2 separate regions of the Homo sapiens genome follow, and region 2 is linked to region 1. The links come from fine-mapping of genetic effects on gene expression. A gene starts in region 1. The other region holds a variant in brackets. All regions are shown on one strand. Distances are from middle to middle. Region 1 holds the start of GPSM1 (G protein signaling modulator 1). Region 2 overlaps GPSM1 (G protein signaling modulator 1).

The links.
Region 2: its variant is fine-mapped to the expression of GPSM1 in lung (TOPMed, PIP above 0.99).

The regions. Positions count from the first base shown.
Region 1 is chr9:136,321,860-136,333,125 of GRCh38, reverse strand. It overlaps GPSM1 (G protein signaling modulator 1), which reads right to left and starts at 5,587. Exons shown (of 14, transcript NM_001145638.3): 1 at 5,363-5,587. The coding sequence starts at 5,430. DKFZP434A062 (a long non-coding RNA gene) reads left to right here and starts at 5,803. Exons shown (of 1, transcript NR_026964.3): 1 at 5,803-10,824. RefSeq lists enhancers at 1-309, 4,367-4,895, 4,896-5,425, 7,955-8,583, 8,584-9,210 and a silencer at 6,459-6,753.
Region 2 is chr9:136,344,583-136,352,942 of GRCh38, reverse strand. It overlaps GPSM1 (G protein signaling modulator 1), which reads right to left. Exons shown (of 14, transcript NM_001145638.3): 10 at 4,176-4,246; 11 at 3,180-3,356. Among named protein-coding and RNA genes, the nearest start is that of DNLZ, 15 kb to the left of the region's middle. RefSeq lists enhancers at 1-226, 6,702-7,355, 7,356-8,009. The variant AT/T (reference allele first, on the strand shown) is at 5,212.

The sequences.
Region 1 (11,266 bases):
GAAGTGGGGGAAGGGTTCAGCCTCGGCTGCTTGCAGGCCGGCCCCATCATTCCTGTTTGCTTTCTGTTGCTTTCATTTTTCATTTTTAAAACTTATGTTACCATTATTATTTTTATAGAGACACGGTCTTGCTCTGTTGCCCAGGCTGGAGTGCAGTGGTGCGATCTCGGCTCACTACAGCCTCCATCTCCCAGGATCAAGCCATCCTCCTACCTCAGCCTCCCAAGTATCTGGGACTTCAGGTTTGCACCATCATGCCCAGCTTTTTTTTTTTTTTTTTTTTTTTGGTAGAGATGGGGGTCTCACTATGTTGCCCAGGCTGGTCTCAAACTCCTGAGCTCAAGTGATCCTCTCACCTCAGGGCCAGGCCCTCCCACCCACTACCTGCCAGGCACCTCACAGCCACCTCACCCATCCCTCTGGGAATGGCCATCCGGATGCCACGTGGGTCACAGGAGCCCACCGTCGCCATGACAACCAGCCAAGCCCCATCCTGCAGCCAGCGCCACGCACGGGGCTTCCTGATTAAGGCCCACTTGCCCCACCCAGCCACTTTTCAAGTGGTCTCACTCGGTTTACTGCCCCCTCCTTCCAGGCAACATCGGAGGAGAGGGGCTTCAGGCCTGAGGCCTGGGTGTCTGTGGAGCCCAGACGCTGCTGCTCCGCAGATCTGATGATGGGAGCCACCTCCCGCCTCCCTTCCAGCCGGAGACGTGGCATCCGAGGCTCAAGGCGAAGGAGGCTTCTGGCCTGGGAAGGGCCTGGGCCTAAAAGTCGGGGATGGGTGCACGGATGGGCCTCTGTCATTCTGCACCTCCAATCTGGGATCCAGGCAATGCAGCCAGCCACCTGCAGCTGCACCAGGTGGGTGTCCCCTCCACTCATCCCAAGACAGCCTCCAACCACGCCCTGGCACCCACACCCACGTGACCACCCCACTCGCTGCCCGCCGCACCTCTTCCTCTGCAGGTTTCGCATCTTCTGCACGTAGAGCCACAGCTCCAGGCCCACGGGCAGCAGCAGCGGGCGGGGGCGGGGGGCGCCATACACCACCTTGCACACGGCCTTCTCCGCCAAGCTCAGGGCCAGAGGCGGGCCCTCCCCAGCAGGGGATGGCATCGCCAGGCCCCAGGCCCTCCTCCCCCAAGCCAGCCCTCGCCCCACCATGGCCACGGGTCCTGGGGGGTGGGCTGGCCTTAGGCTTCCCTGCCCTCTGACCTCCAGGATGGTGGGTTTAAAGCTCGGCGGGGGACTGCCAGTCCTCCAGCAGGTGCTCGGGGGCCTCCCCAATCCCTGACGTGGATCAAGGGATCAAGGACAGCTCAGAGGCTGGGTCAGCCTCGTCAGCAGCGGGGCGGGGAGCCCTGGGGTAATCCCGTCCAACGTGCTCCTCCAGGGACTGGGACCAGCGGCATTGCCCTCCCGTCAGTCACCCGCCAACTCCTCTGCAAACGTTTATCCAGTTCCCAGCGGGGGCTGCTCTGCCCCAGGACCGGGCTCACTCGGGAGCGCCAGGCACGTTTGTGAATGGAAAGAGGAATGGCGTCCAGAGTGTGTGAGTGCCCCCAGCCCAGCACCTCTTCCCCCAGGCCTGGCCCAGGGCTGGGCAAAGCTGGAATTCTGCGCAGTGGTGGCCCCTGGCCGCCTACCGGTTCTCCAGGCCCCTGTGCCTCCTCTGCTCCACCCGACCCCACCTGGCCCCCTCCCCAGCCTCCCTGGCACCAGCCCACGGTGCCAGCATGGGGCAGCGGGGGGGGGGGGCTCAGAGTCCTCACCATGCCAGCCCCACGTCTGCCGGGCCCTCTGTGCTCTCCCTCACCTGACTGGCCAAGGTGCGAACAGGGCCCCAGGTCTGACGGGGTCAGGGCCACGTGGGGCCTGGGGGATGCCGCTCCCCAGGTCGTGGGGCTTGGGAGGCATGGACCACGTTCCCCTAGCCTGGCTCCTTTCCTCAAACTTCCCAAGCCCCCGGCGTCCTTCTCAGCTGGGCTCCCAGCTTCTCCAGCCACCTGTGGCCCATGAGGAGGCTGGAACCTGACAGAGGCGGGGGACTGGGGGGGCAGGTCTTATCCCTGAGACGGCCACGGGGTCTGAGCAGAGGCAGGAATCCAAGGACAGGTGGGGGTCTTCAGGCCCTGGGCTCTCTCCTCCTTACCTTGAGGCCTTGTGGGCTCAGGGGTCCTACTCAGGCCAGACCATTTGTCCACCTTCAGGACAGCTTGGCCAAAGGCGGGGCAGGACCTAGAATGCCTCTCCCTTGCCCAGTCCTCGTCAACAGACTGAACCCTCAGACCCTCCGTGGTGGCTGGGGTGCCATCACCAAGGCCAGTTCCCAAGCCAGCACTGCAACTCCTACTACCTCCGGCCACCCGAAAGCCGTGTCCCTCAGTCCCAGCCCTGCTAACAGAATTGGCACCTGCCCCTCCCCAAGGCCGTCACCTACATGCTGGCCCCTGAGCAGATGCTGAAGAGACTCTGCTCACAGCTGGCTCTATCTGCCCCATCCCCCAGCCAGACACCCCCAGGGAAAACCACACCGACTCCCCTTCAGTGGCCAGGGGAGGGGAGAGAGTGAGGCGCAGGACCGGGCTGGGAGCACAGCGGGAGCTGGAATCACTGGAGAGGGGACTGAAGGTCACCCAGCTGTAGGAAGCACCTGGGGTCAGGCTTGCCAGGAATTCCTAGGGCCCGTCGCTGCCCAGCGACCCACCAGGGATGGTGCCCAGGACGGGGACAGGGGAGGGAGGAAGGATGGAGTGAAGGTAGGGGGTAGCATGGCCATGTGGCCAGAGAGGTTGCGGGGGGCCCAGTCCACACCTGAGGACGTCCTGTCTGGGAGCTGGTGACTGCTGCTTGGAGGGCATCTCTAACAGGGTCACCCCAAGGTGGGTGGCTCTGCTGCCCCTTCCCGGCCCCAGCCCCGGGGAGCACTCAGCTGGCCTTAAAGCAGGTGGGAGGCCAGGAGACGACCACCCAGGGTTTCCCCACTTTCCGGGGCCTTCTCAGCCACTGGCCTGTCCCCGCCAGGCCTCTTCACCCCAAAGCCCTGCTCTGGGCCAGGGAGCCCCTGGCAAGTGGGCCAGAATTCTGAGCATTAACTGTAGCACCCAGGGCCCTGTCCCCACCGACCCAGCACCCAGGGCCCATCCCCACTGACCCAGAACCCAAGGGCCCGTCCCCACCGACCCAGCACCCAGGGGCCCGTCCCCACCGACCCAGCACCCAGGGCCCCGTCCCCACCGACCCAGCACCCAGGGGCCCGTCCCCACCGACCCAGCACCCAGGGCCCCGTCCCCACCGACCCAGAACCCAGGGGCCCGTCCCCACCGACCCAGCACCCAGGGCCCCTCAGGGTACCCAGTGGGCTCATGGGCACATTCATGGGCCTCGCTGTCAGTGTGTTTTCCAGGCACAGTTCCCCATTTTAAAAGCTGAAACTCCTCTCTCCAGGAAGGAATGTCAGTGTGGGAAGGCAGTAGACGGGGCAGAGGAGACCTTGGGCCAACCTGGAGCCCCATCCACATTGAGGGACCCCAGTACAGCCACGTGAGGAGTGCCCACACGGATTCCGCCCACCTCCAGGGCATCCACATGCCCACCGCCCACGCCAGCAGGTGGGCCGCCCCCAGCACTCGGGTTTCAGGAGACAGGAGACTTTTCCGTGTCTTGCTCTCCAGCCCCAGCATGACAGCAAAGGGCCCTCCCGTCTGGCCCGCAGCTTCCACTGGCCCAGAACACGTCTAGGCATCCATGCTCTGAAGCCAGCTCCGACCAGGAACCGCCTGCCCAAACCGGGCTGTGGCTACACGGTGGGGTGCAGACTCCCGGGGGGACCTCGTCACAGGCCCTGCTGGAGGGCTTGGCGCGCTTCCCCCAAGTCTGGGCCTGACTCCACCCTGGAGCTCAACTGGACTCCCTGCTTAGGGGGATGCAAGGCTGGGTCTGGGGTCTCTCTGAGTGGTCCCCCTGAGCACTGCCCCTGCCAGGGGCTGGCTCCTGCCTGGCGTGTCCCCAGGGGACCCCAGGCTTCTAGCTGTAGCCTGGAGAATGCCCAACTCTATGGTCAGCTGTGCAGGCCTCACCCAAGGCTAAGGTCTTGGACACCCGTCTCTCACAGCTCCACACACACACTCTCTCACAGCTCCACACACTCACACTCAAACTCACTCCAGCCAGGGCTGCTATCCATCCCCCTCACAGCACGGCCGCCCTGGAGCACATGCGGCCCTGCACAGCCGATCAGATCAGCGGAGGAAACCCTTGAAAATCCTTTAGGGCAGGCCCCTGGCAGCAGCTGCCAGCAAAATCACCCTCACGCCCCTCCCCTGCGTGGGGCCCAGGAGCCAGGCTAGGGGCTCAGCGCTCCATCCAGGACGGCACAATGGGGCTGTGTCTGGGACCAAAGCAGAGAGCAGACCGGAGGCAGCAAGGCCTCTGTCCGCCGTGCCGCCACCAGTACCTCATTTCGGGTGCCCCAGGCAGAGGCTTGCTGCTTGGCTGGGGCCAGAGAATCCTTGGGGGCCAGGCTAGGCGCCCCCCGGGATCAGCTGCTGGGACCCCTATCAGGGAGGTCACCAGGTTTTAGGGATGTCCAGAGGACAATAGTGTCCCTCGCTCTGGGGAGCCAGGCCTGCCTCTGACGGCTGCCACCCATTCGCAAGCCCCTGCCTGGACCTCACGCTCGTGTGGCTCTGCCTGAGGCCTGGTACCACCCAGCCTTGCTTGGGGCTCCAGGCACCTGCCCGGCTGGGCCCAGGGCAGCCCCTGGGGGGACATTGGGAGTCACCAGGCAGGCATGCCACCTGGGGCAGGGCCACCCTGTCATCCCCAAAGGCGTGGGGCACAGAGCCCAGTCACTGGGATCACCCAGGAATGTGCCCGGAGAGTAGATGCCTTTTCAGGCAGGTACACACCCACCTGGCTGGCTCCCTTCCAACCCAGCTGGATCCCACTGGGCTCGTGGAGGGCTGGTGAGGGGCAGAGCCCCATCCAGAGCAGCCAGGTCTCTTTGGCCATGATGCCCCTGAGTGCCCCGGGCATGGCAGGGCCAGGCTTGGGAGGGAAGCACCCCACGGTGCCCCTGCCAGGTGCCAGGGGAGTGAGGCTGGAGAAGCTGCCCACCCCGCCTCCAGCCCCCCGGCCCCCCACCCCCTTCCCCTTGGCTTGGGGGAAAGAGGGCTTCAGGGGACGCCCACGCGGGCACACGCCGGGCTGGGCTCGGCCTGGAGGGAGGGGCGCGTCCTCAGCCACGCTGCGCGCCCGCGAGAGCTGCCTTTGTTCCCAACTGCAGCCTCCCCCGCGTCCCGACCCGGCCCGGTCCGGTCCCAGCCCCGGCCCCGGCCCCGGCCCCGGCCCGTCCTACCTGGAGTAGAGGCGCCTGGCGGCCGGGCCCGGGAGCTCGTCGGCCGCGGGCGGGGCCGGGCCCGCCATGGGTCGGGGACGCGGGAGCGGGAGCCGGGAGCGCCCCCCGCGCCGTGGCCGTCCGCCCCCTGCCCGCCCTGCTGTCCTCCCTGCTGTCCGCCCTGCTGTCCGCCTGTCCGTCCGCGCCTCGTTCGCCCGTCCTCCCCCGGGGAGGCGCCGAGGAAGTGATGTGCGCGGGGCGCCGCCGCCCCTCCCGCCGCCGTGGCCGTGATGTCACCGCCGCCCGCGCGGGGAGGGGGCGCGGACCGGGCGGCCACCGCCGCGTGCCTCCCTCTGCGGGGGGCGGGGCGGACGCGGGGGGAGGGGCGCCGTGAGGCGGGCAGTCCCCGGGGAGGGGGGAGGGGGGAGGGGGTGTGGGCCCCAGCCCACCCCACCCCAGGGAATGCAGGGGAGAGGGCCTGGGCCTGGCCTTGCTGCTGGTCCCCTGGGGACTTCTGAGGGCCCGCGGGGGTCCCTGGGTCACAGTGCAGCCACACTGGCCTCTGGGCTCCTTTCATCCACAGGCCGCCTGGTGAGCCCCGCAGCCTCACCCACGTGGGGAGGGGCTGCTGAGGCCTCCTTGCCTTTCTTGGTGGGCGCCCTACGCCTCGGGGGTCCTACCCTCCTCTTCTGTGCAGCCCCAACGTGGCTTTGCCCCCTTCTCCAAACTTCTGCCTTGGGCCATGGGGCGCAGGCCGTGGGGATGCTGTCTGCCTGCTTTAGAGAAACCTGGGGCACCGATGACAAATACAGGCTCTGCTTGGCCTGTGGGACGGTTGGTAAGCCCCCCACCTCTGAGACCCTGGGTGGCCACATTCCCCTCCCAAGCTCCCCCGGAATGGGGATGCAGCCTGCCCCTTCCTTCCTCCTGGGCACTGTGCAGGCTTAGGGAGGATGCAGGTGGCACAGTAGGCTGTGCCCACCCGGGGTCCCGGGACCCCAGCCCCTACCGCCTCCTCCTCCTCCTCTGAATTCTTGGAGCCCTGTGGGCCTATGTGGTGTGACGTGGCTTCCCCTCCACCCACCCTCAGCTCCCGATGGCTTGGGGGGTTCTCCGCAGCCAGCGAGGCCCACAGCCGGCCTCCCCGGGTTCTGTCCTGCCCCCGACAGCATCCTGGGCCTTCCGGTGGTGTCAGGAGACTCCAGGCCCTTGAAAGGCAGCTGCGACCCCGGGTATGACTCGGAGAAGTCCAGGAGCAGGAAATGGGCTGCATTCCTTCGGGGCCCCTCCGTGCACCCCAGCCCCTCCCTGGGAGAGCTGCCCTGAGGTCAGGAAAGTGCCGTCCTGGCAAGACCCTCAGCAGCTGCCGCCCACAGGACAGTCAGCGTTTTCAAGCATGGGAAGGAAAATAAACACGAGGTTAAAAAGGGGTCTGTTGGCCCCGGGCTGGTTTGTTTTTCCTGTGTAAGGGAGGCAACGGGAATGAGAACCATCTGTGCCCTGAGCGCAGCGCAAGCTGCCTGCTGGGCCCACGTGCCCTCCCCCAAAGACCACAGAAGCCAGGCAGAGCCTTGCTCCCTTCCAGCCGGGGCCGTGGCTGCTGGCCGGCAGGGACAGTGGTGTTGGCTGGGGCACCACCCTCCTTTGCCACAGCCCTGGGCCTGGCTGCGGGCAGAGAACAGGCCTTCGATTGAAGCTCCAACCTTCCGGGCCACCTCCTTTGGGCTTCGGGCACCTGAGCCAGCATCCCATTGTAAGGGCAGGGGCTGCTGGGGGCCCTGCCTGTGCCAGGCCTCAGCTCAGCCCTCTTTCCCCAGGCGCTGCTGCCATCAGGAGGCCCACAGAGGGTCCACACCAACACTGTGAGCCCCTTGTGGGTCCCCTGGGTTAGTGGTGGGAGGCTGGTGAAGAGAAGTGGGGACAAAAGACATTGCACAAATGGTGGAGGGAGGGAGAGATTTGCAGCCTCGTAGCTGTCATTGCTGGGGGAGCTTCTCCTGGTCTCCTTCCTTGATGCAGAGAGCTGGGAGCTTGTGTCCCTGGGCCGGGAGAGCCCCAACATTATATCAGAACTTGTGGGGAAACCTGCACCCCCGAGGGCTCTGGCTTTGTTAGGCCGAGCTGGGCTATGAGGCTGTGTGACCTGGCACAAGTTGCTTTCCCTCTCTGAGCCTCGGTTCTGTCACCTGAGGGCTGCCCGTCCCGCAAGGTGTGGAGGGTCACTGAGGCGTGGGGTTTCTGCGGTGCTTGTCCATGTGCCTGGCACACAGTGGGGTTTGTGCAGTGCTTGTCCATGTGCCTAGTGGCTCACAGTGGGGTTTGTGCGGTGCTTGTCCGTGTGCCTGGCACACGGTGGGGTTTGTGTGGTGCGTGTCCATGTGCCTGGCACACAGCGAGAGCTGCTGGGGTCATGTTGCTCTCACACTCGTGCCTGCCCCTGCTGGGCCCCTGCAGTGGGTCCTGGCTGGATTGGGGGTACATCCCCACCACACTGCACAGAGGGGCGTCTCCTCCTATCCAGGGACCTGATTCTCCTGTCGAGAAAACCTATGAAGGGGACCCAGAGATGGAGTGTGACAAGGCCAGGTGACAGGCCTGACATGTGGTGTCCACATCCAGAAGGGAGACCCTGGAGGGATGACCCTCCACTGCCACCCCCTCCCATCAGGCTCTGGACACCCTCGAGCCTCCCACCATCCACCTTACCAGATCCCCCCAAGAGTCCGGGAAGCTCACTCCCCCAGGGGACCAGGAGCACAGCCCCTTCCATTCCTAACGGGCCTGACTCCCAAAGGGGGGTGAGGAAAGAAAAAGCCATTTCACATCGACTTATTCTTCTGGCCCCAGGCAGCAGCACAGGGCGCAGGGTGGGCCTCTGCAGACACGATGGCTCCGTGGTCAGGGAGGGGCCACCTCCCATGTGCCTGGGGAGGGGCCCTCCCAAGCCCCTGCGTGGCAGCGCCAAGGGGTTGGAGTCAGCCCCAGCACACACAGGGCCCTGCTCACTGGTGGCCATTGTCAGCGCCACCTCCACCTTCAGGAGCCTGCCACGTGCCTGCCCTCGGTCACTTAGCCCTCCCTGGCACGCACCACTTTGTCCACACACCCTGTGTGTAAGTGGTGACAGCGGTGACAGCTCAGGCGTCACCTGATCGGGCCGACTCTAAGCCTTAGTCCTTCCTTGTCCTGTTGCGCCGGACAAGCCTCTGGGAGGCGACGGTGGGACAGCCACAGGGTTCTTGGCTCAGCCCCCAGGAGTGGGGAGCTGGGGCTCTGGACGGAGGTGGGCACTCGAGGCTGGTGTGGCCTCCTGGGTGAGGGCCAGGCTCGGGAGAGGCAGCCAGGCGGCCCCAAGCCACCCCAGGAACAAAGCACCAGCACACACCTCCACTGGTTTGCTAGGGCTGGGAGAAGTTGGAGTGTTTCTGTGGTGGCTGTGGCAGCCCACGGCCCCAAGACCCTGGCTTCCTTCTGCTCCCACCTTTTCAGGCCCCTTCCCCAACAAGCAGCTACTGTAGGACCCAGTGGGGGCTAGGGCACCAGCAGCTGCCATTACCCATGCTGGGTCCTGATGGTTCCTGACCAGCCTCAACCGTGGATTCCAAGCTGGGGAAGGAAGAAGCAGGCCGGGAGTGGGGAGGGAGACAGTGAAGGACACCCAAACACACACACACACACACACACACACACACACACACACACACACACAGAAGGAACAGTTTCAGCTTTGTTTCCCAGTAATCTCACTTAAAAAGAACACTTGGGTTTACCATGTTCACATAATCTCGTTGCTCTGAGAATGAACTTATTCTTCCTCCCAGCTTGGCCATGTGTTCCTCCCCATTGCCCAAGTCCCCTCATGACATCATCTCCCACTGCCATGTCCTTTCCTTGGGGACCTCCAAGTCCCTGGAGTTTGGGGACTGCAGGGTGGGTGGAGGGGCCCACAAGCTCTGCAGGGAGCCAGAAGGAAACGGTCTGTCCCACCCCAGGGCTGAGCACCTCGCTGGGAGATGATACCCACACCTGGAAATAGCTCAAGGGCCGCGTGAGGCCGCACGACACCCACGCCAGTATGAGACACCTGGCCATGCGGCATTCCTGGCCGACTGCTGGCAGCTGCAGACTTTGTCAGCCAGGTGATGTCCCCGGGATCTCTGGGCAGGCAGGGCACACAGGAGGCAGCTCACGCTCACTCATCATGGCGAGGCAGGTCGTGTGGAACTTCCTTGGTCTTCCTCATCTGCGCCCCACCCAGCCTGGCAGATGGTGATGCTGTGAGTGCCAGGGAAACACACACACGCACACACACACACATGCACACATGTACAGACAGGTGCACATGCCTGGGAGAGTCTGTGCTGCTCAGCTTCCGAGGGCAGCTCCCCAGGTCTCCCCCCGGGTCTGCGGTGGGAGGCGAGTCTTTTAACATCAGCTCAAACCAAACAGGATGAGGAGGGCAAATCGGCCGTCCCCAGTAAATCCTAGGGAGTCCCTCCAAGGCAAACAGAAAATGCACCCCAGCTTTCGCTTTTAGGGGTTTGAGTTGCGAGTTTCCAGTCTGCGGAGTGCGATGGCCGGGTGTAAGTCTGAAACCCTCTGGGGGAGAGAAGCCGCACAGTGCAGGGGTACACATCCCAGATCCACTCCCCAGCTGTGAGGCCCAGGCGCATTCCGCGTTCCCCGCCCATCTCCACCTCCGAGGGTTGCGGGAGGCTGAGCAGTTAGAACCGTGGCTGGCATACGGAGGGCACTCGGTAAACGTGGCTGTGCTGAGCTGTGGGCCTCGAAGGAGTCTCGCGGGGCTGCTGTACCAATGACCTTGCACTGGGTGGCCTAAAACAACATGTGTTTCCTCACAGCTCGGGGGACCAGAGCTCAGAATCTGGGGGTCACAGAGGAGGGTCCATGCTCATCCAGGTCAGCTCTAGGGGCTGCAGGCCACCCCTAATCTAGGATGGTCTTATGTTGAGGTCCTTAATTACATCCACAAAGACCCTTTCCCCAAATAAGTCCCCACGCACAGTTCCCAGGGACAGCCTCTGGGGCAGCATCACCACCCACTCAGTCCTCCATGCACCCCCTTGCGCTATCACGTAACTTGGATCAGGTCCACGCGTGTGGCTTTGCGGCTTTCCTTTGTCACAGCGTGTCACAACTGTTTTCCCGGGTGTCACTGCTGTGGTTTGAGTTTGTGTGTCCCCAGCCTTCATATGTTGGAACCTGAGACCCAAGAAGATCGTTATAAGACGTGGGGCCTTTGGAAGGTGATTAAGTCACCAGGGTCCCCATTGAAGCGCTTGGGAAGCCATCGAGGCCCCCTCCCCTTTGTCCTCTCACCTTCCGCCGGGAGAGGACACAGCAAGAGGCACCCACTGGGAGGCAGAGAGCAGCCCCCACTCCCACTGAGGCTGCTGGCACCGAGACCCTGGACTTCCAGCCTCCAGAAGCGTGAGAAATAAATGTCTATTGTGTGTCAATGACCCCGGCTCAGGTGTTTTGTTACGGCAGCAGGAATGGACTGAAATGCATCACTGAAAGGTCTTCACGGCCAGGCACAGAAGCTCACGCCTGTAATCCCAGCACTTTGGGAAGCACTCAGCGTTTGAGGCCAGTAGTTTGAGACCAGTGTGAGCAACACAAGGAGATCTTGTCTCTACAAAAAAAAAAAAAAAAAAAAAAACTTTAAAAATTTAGCCAGGCATGATGGCACATGCCCGTGATCCCAGCTACTGGAGAGGCTGAGGCAGAAGGATCGCTTGAGCCCAGGAGTTTGAGGCTGCAGTAAGCTGTGATCCTGCGGAGTCAGATCTTGTCTCAAAAAACAAATTAAAAACTCTCCTCAAGCATAACAGGGGCCGTATCCAATTCACGCTGTGGATGTACCACTGTCATTTAGCCAGGTCCTGGCAGGTGGACACCAGG
Region 2 (8,360 bases), 21 kb before region 1:
ACACACAGGCTCACACACACGCACGTGGGCTCGCACTCACACACAGGCGCACTCCGTAAACACTCCCCCAGCAAGTGCAGCAGTGAACCTCCCCCTCCCCGTGCCTGTGGGCGGGCACACTGGAGGGCTGTGTGGGCAGACAGCCTGCCGAAGAGCCCTTTTCCCGCTGACACCTGGGCCCCTGGGCCTCCCTCCAGAGCTGGGCCAGGTGGGGAAAGCCACCTCTTTATTCAGCCTGACTACGGAGGCAGGCGCAGAGGACCTGGGCGGGTTGCTGTCCTCATCTGGACTCCTCTGTCCGGGACGGCCCTTCCTGTCCCACAGCCCTCGGTGGCTCCCCAGTGCCCTGGCTCAAGGGCCTCCCGGCCAGCTCAACTCAAGCCTCTGGTTGCTGCCTCTCTGTCTCATTCCTGGTTGGACCTACACTGTCTCCAGCCTCTGAGGCCAACCCTGCCCTGTCCCCTACCCTCCACCCCAGAATGAGTTCTCTGGACCCCCAGACCACACCCAGCCACACCGCCTCAGATCCCAAAGCCCCGAATGTGCTGGCTGCAAGGCCCCTGCACTGTCTGGGCACAGGGTGGGGAGGGGCAGGGGCTGGTTGGTCACCAACAGCAACGGCGCAGCATCGGTGTCACCAACAGCAACGGCGCAGCATCGGTGTCACCAACAGCAACGGCGCAGCATCGGTGTCACCAACAGCAACGGCGCAGCATCGGTGTCACCAACAGCAACGGCGCAGCATCGGTGTCACCAACAGCAACGGCGCAGCATTGGTGTCACCAACAGCAACGGCGCAGCATTGGTGTCACCAACAGCAACGGCGCAGCATTGGTGTCACCAACAGCAACGGCGCAGTATTGGTGTCACCAACAGCAACGGCGCAGTATTGGTATCAGCTGCACTTTGCAGATGAGGACCCCAACTGAGAGCTGAAAGCCCTTCCCTGAGGACCCCAGCAGAGGGGGAAGGGGGCCCACCCGGCCACTGACGCCCCAGGGATGTATCCCCCACCCACCCTCGCTGCAGTCCCCATACAGGCTGCCACCAGGGTGCAGACGGTCCTTACTCGGAGGTACCCAAGGTTCTGACCTCGGTAAGGCCAGTGGGGTTCAGGTCAGCAGAAAGCCAAGAGGCCCTGCCACGTCCTCACAGACCCTGGGAACCCCGTTTGTCTGGGGCCAGGATCTTGGCTGTCCCAGGCGTCCTGCCCCGCGGTGGTTGCAGGGGCCAGGGGAGCAGGGCCCGCAGCAGGTGGGGGCTCCCTGGGGCCCTGGCCAAGGCCTCCAGAGTGCTGGGCCAGGCAGCTGGACACTTGGAACTGTGTCCCCTTGCCCTGCTGGCCCAGACCCAGGGCAGTTTGTTGGGGTGACGTGAAGCCTGGAAGCCCTCAGAGGCTGTGCTTTCTAGAAAGCCATCAGCCCCTGAGGCCGGCTGACTGGTCTGTCCCACACATGCTGCCAGCCTCCCACTCCTTCCTTGGCGGCCCAGATGTGATGGGCAGAGCCAGCTGTGGACAGGGCAGACCCAGCTGTGGACAGGGCAGGGCCAGCTGTGGACAGGGCAGGTGTCTGGGTCCCAGTCCTGCTCCTCCCTCCAGGCCCAGGGAGGCTGGGGGATCACCGGGACCCCCGGGAAGGCCTGACCAGGTGCTCCCTGGGTGCCCTTCCCTCCACACCTCTCCCATCAGTGGACGGATGGACCTAGCCCAGATGGTTGGGCAGTGCTGGGGCTGAATGAGGGGAAGGTAGGCTGTGCCCTGCTGGTGGGAAGGATGGGCTTGGGCAGCCTCGGGGGGCTGCGAATCCCAGCCCAGCACCCACACCCCTCTGCAGGTTGGTGCCCACGGAAGAACAATTTCAGACTATTTCTAGTGGTTTGGACCCAGCCGTCCTGCTCGGGGGAGCTCCAGGCTGACCTCCGAACCCGGACTCGGCCCATCGGTGCCCCTGAACACCAACCAGCTCTCCCGTGGCTGGGGTGGCCCTGGCACAGCTGACACCTGCCAGGCACAGGCCCGGCCTGTCACCTGTCCCCCCACCAACCCCGAGTCTGACCACCAGTCTGTCTGTCCCCCGTCCGTCCACCCATACACTTGGCAGTCACTGCAACTGCCCCACCCCTCCCGCCACCTCTGTGTGCCACAGCAACGCGGGGGGCTCCTGGCTAGCCCTGAGGACCCGGGTGGCGCCCAGGCTGCGCTGCTGCTGCTTGCTGGGCTGTGACCCTCTGCTCCACTCGTGACCTTGAGCCCAGGTGGGGTAGGGCAGGGTGGGGCCTCCCAGCCCCTGACCAGGAGGAACCCTGAGTGGACCTAGCCCCTTGCTGTCCCCTCACCAGGGGCTCTGCAGCCATGCACAGGCCACCCAGCTGCATCCCCTCCATGACCCCACTCACCATCGGTCCTGCCCCGGCCCCTGCACCCACAAGGAGAGGCCCCAGTACCTTGGCCCAGCTGGAGCTGCAGGTGCTTCCACACCAGGGCCTGACCATGGGTGTGGCTTAGGGGCTTCCCACCCACCCCTTGGGTGCCCCTCAGGCCCCTCTGCTCAGGGACCCCCGCCAGGTGTCAGAGATCCCAGGATTCCCCCAGGGACTGTGTTGGCCTCGTCCACCCCTCCAGGGCCCTGGTAGGATACACAGGCTTGACCTCACTGGCCAGAGCCTCCAAGAGCCACCTCAGGAAGGGGCACCCCATCAGGGGATCTGTGCAGCCCGGCTCTCACAGTGAAGGCAGCCAGTTCCTTTCAGGGACACGCTCCTGTGACTAGCGGATGGGTCTGGAGGGTCCCAACAAAGGAGGGTGGGGGCTGGAGTCAGAGAGAGAGGCCACCTGAAGGCTGGGAAGAGCCAGCCCCCAACTGGTGAACAAGATGGAAACTGAGGCCCAAAGAGAGGCGGGGCGTTCCATGCAGAAGAGCCCAGCCTAGAGTCCCCAGGAGGCTCCTCGGTGGCCGGGGCCTCTGAGGCCAGGTGCGACCACAATGCTAAACACTGAGCCCTGCCCAGAGCCCCCACCGGGGTCCCAGGACAGCACTGCACCAGGTGCACCGGGGAGGGACCCCTGCCTCCCCGGAGTGCCCGGGCCTGACCTGGCCCCGTTGGCTGGCAGTGGAGTTGGGGCGCAGTTGCCAAGCTCTCCTCCCTCTCGGCCTGGATCTGCCGTCAAAGACGCCTACCGTGCGTGGCACGTGCACCCGGACGTCGGCGCTGTCCAGCGGGGAGTGGCTGCCCTCCCGGGGCCTCCTCTCAGCGTCCGGGCCTTCCTGGTACTTCCTGCTCCTCACGGGGAGGGGTAGCGAGTCCCTGCTGGGCCCCCGCCAGTCCCCTGAATGGTGGCTGTCTCCATTCTGCTCCTGGGGAGGGGTAAGGCTGTGCGTGGCCTGGGCAATTGTGAACCAATGTCCCCATCCCAGGACCCTGAAGGGAAGGCCAGGCCGCCTCCATTTCATGGATGCACGCCGTAGGTGCCCAGTACCCAGAGAGGAGGAGAGGACTGGGGCTGTGGGCCCTTGGCTGGGGCCGGGAGAGGCAGGGTGGGGTGTTTGAGGGCCAGTGGCCCCCGCAAATGTCAGCCGGCTTATACCAGCAATGACAGTGACTGTGGGCGTCCTTGGGTCTCGTCCCCACAGCAGAACCCTGACGGCCATCCACAACTGAACACAGGCCACACCAGAGGAACCAGAGGCTCAGAGAGATCAGGCTGCTGGCCCAGGCCACACAGCACCCACTGCCGACAGGCACAGGGCCAGCCCAGGGCCCTACGCCAGGCAGCCCCCGAATCTGTCTGTGTGGGTCTGCTGAACCCCAGCCAGTGTCTGCACCTGCAGCAGCTGTGCCCACTTTGGGTCAGAGTCCGAGAGGGCAGGGAGCAGGCAGGAGTGGGTGCCCCTGTCTGTGGGCTCCCGAGGGTGTGGTGGCATAGCAGCTGGGTGGAGTATGGGGGCCTGAAATGTGTGAGGACCATGCCTCGCCTGGGGCACAGCTGGCCAGACGCTGAGGGACATGGGTGAGCAGGTGGCAGATGGGCCATGCAGGGCATCAGGCCGAGGAGGGCACATTTATCTCCCAGCAGACAGGGGCTGAGGTGGGTGGCGGTGGCTCTGCCTCATTAACCCCGCTGCCCATGCTCTGGCAGCGGCTGTGCTGACATCGGTCCCGTGTCCCTGGCTCACCCGCTCCAGGGGGAGTCTCAGCAGGTCCCAGGTCTCCGCGCTCAGCCTCTGCGTCCTCTTGGGTCTGGCCCCTGAAGACAGAGGGACCCGGTCAGCCCAGCACCACCCTGGCACCTCGCATTGGGTGGGCCAGGCCAGAGTCTCTGGGGGGCCAAGGACCAGCCCGGCCATGGCTTTCTGACAGCCAGCCCCCCTTGTGGAGGCGAGCGCCATGTCTGAGTGTCCTCTGCGTCTCCCCGACTGTACTGTCAGAGTCAAAGGGGACAGGTGTCGAGACAGAGCGCGTCCTGGCTGGGGCCAGGTGGGGTCTGGCTTTGGCTCCCTGTGCTGGAAGGGCCCGGCTCTGGACAGGCCTCTCCCCTGCCGCACACAGGGCCTCCCCCGTCAGTCCTGCTGTTCCCTCTGCCTGGATCACCCTTCCTGTGGCCCCTGGTCACCTCTGTGAGGCCACCCAATCCCCCCTCCTGAGGGTGCATCATGCTGTGCCCCGGAGGCAGGTGGGGCGGGCCTGTGGGTCCACTCCCAGCTCACTGCGGGCAGCCCAGGCCAGGGTCGGGGACGCAAAGGCCTCAGATGAATCCCCCAGACCAGCTCTGCCGTGGGACCTTCCCCGGGCTCCTGTCCATCCCTCCTGGCCCGGGGCTCACCCTACTGGCCGTGTCTCCACCCAAGGGACCCCCATCCCCTCTAGCCGCAGTGGGGTGGTGGGGCACAGCTGCCTGACCCAACACTGGCCAGCTGCAGACTCAGCGGAGCCACCAGTGCCTGTCCCGGGCCCCTGGGAAGCCCCACAGCCAGGCCCACCTTCAAGCCTCAGTCCCAACACGGCCCTGGCAGAGACGGGTGTCACTCAGCCCTGTCCCAACACAGCCCTGGCAGAGACGGGTGTCGCTCAGCCCTGCGGGGCCCGAAAGGATTTGGGAGTTTGGGAGAGTGGGCCCTACCTCAGCCCAGCCGCTCCCTGAGCACTCTCAGGAGCCTGTATCCAGGGCACGACAGACCTGGCAGATCAGAAATCAGTTGGCGAACGGAAAAA[AT/T]GGGATGGAATCCGGGAAGTGGGGAATGTCCTCAACCAGGCAGGAAGCCCTGTGGGAAGGGCCCGATGCTGTGGCTGAGAGCCAGGGTCTGCGGGCGCTTCCCTGAGGAGGCGGCGGGACGGACAGGGGCACAGCCACTGTGGAAAGGGCAGCAGAACGTTCTAGGCAGAGGGGACGACGGCGGAACGAGGCTGACACTGAGGACCCTGTCTCTGCTGTCCCTACGCCTGGCACATCTCCAGGGAGACTCTCGCAGCTGGGAGGACCCTCATCCTCCTCCCTGCTCACCCACAGCTCCCACCCCCCTATGCCCACCCTTACCCAGTCTTCCTGGGAACCAAGCGTCCCTCCACCCGTGGACACACTGGACACGGGCTGTGCCCAGGAGCCCTGCGCACACCCAGTGTGAGTCCGAGGGCGGGGCCAGAACCAGCCCTGGCATCAGTGGGCACTCTGAGAATCCAGTCCTGGCACCTCCAGACCATCAGACTTGGCCCCATTACTACGCCTCGGAGCTCAGCGCCCTCCTCATCAGACTGCGCCGGCATGGATGGGCCGGGCCGGGCAGTTCCCCTCCGCACTCATCCCCCCGAGAGGCTCAGCTCCTAAAGTGAAGCTGCTTGGTGGCTGCCTGCATCAGGCAGATGTCGGGGGGCAGGCCCAGACACCCCCTTACCCTGTCCAGGCCCCACTGCATCAGGGAGCACAGCCACCAGGGTTGGGGCACTCGTCAAAGTTAGCAGCATGAATGGCCAGGCAGGGTGCCGGGGCCTCAGGTGCACCCGGACCCCACCGTTAGCCCTGGGTTCTGGGCCCTGCCGGGGAACACAACATCCACAGAGGGAGAGAGCCGGCTCAGGCGGGCAGTCACTCGGTCATTTCAGGCACTGGGCCCCACACACAGCCCCTCCCAGCCTCACCTGCACAGCTGTCACTCAGCCAACATCCCCCTGACCCCAGCCTCAGCAGGGCCCTGATTTAAATATGAGCCTGGCCCCGACCATGAGGGAGGGAGGAAATGGGCCCGAGTGTCAGGGTCTCTCAGGGTCTCCCTTACAGGCCCATGCTGCGGATGAGAACAGGCCTGGGTCTTGCTGGGGGGCTGCTGTCTGAGCATTGTGCCACCAAATGGAGTCCAAGCCTCCACCCCCAACTGGGAAGGGGGTCCTGCTGCCACCTAGTGAATGGCAGTGATGAGGATGCACTGGGGGCTTCAGACGGCTAAGAAGGCACCTGGTGGACAGCAAGGTGCTACCTATGGGGCAGAGGGGAGCCCCTGGATCGGCCTGGCTGCTAGCAGCCCCTTCCTGAGTCTGTCCATGTGACCCGTTTAAATGGTGAGCTCCTAAACGCAGCTGGGGGGAAGGGGACAGGAGCAGAGGGAGCTGAGGACTTGGGGGCCCAGGCTGGTCTTCCGCCTCCAGCCCGCTGGCCCCAGACCAGCCCACGGCGAATGCCTACAGCTTCATGAGAGCTGGGCAGGGACCGGGAACTGGCTGAGTGTGGGCTGTGCGCTTCCCTGGCCTGGCCTCTGGGCTCCGAGGACACACCCTAAGCTCCTGCTCTCCAGGGGCCTGGGATGGAAACCTGTGCGGCCAGAGGCACACGTGGGGCCCATCAGGGGCCTGAGCAGGACACTGGGACCTGGGGCCGTCCACTGCTCCTCCCACTCCCAACACAAACGCCCGGGGCAGGGCTCCCATCGCCACCCTGTGGCCACAGTGGTCAGCGGGATCAGGGTTAGCTCCGGCACATTCAGGATCCGGCCAGGCACTGAGGTGGAGCCGCCCCAGCCTCGGGTGGTGCAGCTTGAAGGGACAGAACGGGGCTGGGGTCGACGGCCTGTTCTCTGAAGGGCCACCAGCTGCCCACCCCCACCCAGATGAGCAAGGTAGCTCTGAGGACAGCTGCTGACCCCACACAGTTCGGGGCCTGCTCCCCACACCATGGAAATGACAGAGGAGCACGTCTGTGCTGGGGCGGGCCCTTCACTTACCACACCCAGCGAGAGCCCCGCTCCGTCTCCCGGTGTGCACTGCCTGAGGGCCTGGCTCTCCCTCTGCCGCCCCCAGTGCCATGGGGGCCTAAGTTGGTTTCCCCACCGCATCCTCCGGGTCCTGGGCCCGGCACAGCTGCTTCTGCCAGGCCTGGCCCTCCACCAGGACACCGCATGGATGGGCCCTGGCTGCAGCAGCGGCTGAAATGCTCTTCTGAGACACAGCCTGCGTCTGGCCCCAGGGCGGGCGCCCTCATGGCCAGGCACGGACGGTGGGCGGAAGGCCCGCTGCGCCTGGCTCAATGCACCCTCTGTCTGCAGAGTCGGCTGAGGCGTTGAGTGTGAGTCCAGCGCCCTTGGCTGAGCTGCCCAGACAGGCCCGGCCCACTGGCTTGGCTTCCTGTCTCTCCCGCCTGCGAGGGCAACGTTTGGAAACTTCTCCCAGCACCGCCCCATGGCCACCCGACGCTGACCGTCACACTGTCATCATCATTTCTGTCCTCACCCAGCTCCAGACGTTTATGTGCAATGGCCAACTCAAGCCCATCGAGCATCTTGGTGCCCCCTGTGCCTGCCGGACCCCTCAGGGCAGCACCCGCCCCGCCGGCTTGGCTCAGACCTCAGCAACCCCGATTTTCAGCTGCCCACGGTTCCTTCACGCCCACCTCTGGTCTGAAATCCAGTCTGTCCCCGCCTCACTGCAGATCCAGAGTCCCACCCCTCCTCACCTCCCTGGAGCCGGATCACCTGCCCCTCACCTGCCTGCTGCCCCAGCCTTGCCCCTAAGTCCCCTCTCCATGCAAGGACCATGGGGTTGGTAAGGGCTGGCCTAGGCCTTGCCCCTTCTCTGCTGGGTCCTGAGGGCCCCGCCCCATTGGGGAGGGGGTCTCACACAAGGGCCCACGAGGCCCTCCCTTCTTCGGCCAAGGCCCTCGCCTTGCTCCGTCAGCTCCAGACAGTCTCCCTGTCCCTTCACCTACCAGGCTGGCCCCTGCCTCAGGCCCTTTGCACAGGCTGTTATCTCTGCCCAGACTGCTGTTCCTCCGTCTAAGCTTGCGGCTCACTTCTCTCTGACTTCCAGTCTTTGCTGGAGCATCATGATCAAAGCCCTAACTCCCCATGGGATGGTGTTAGGAGGTCCTGAGGTTTACA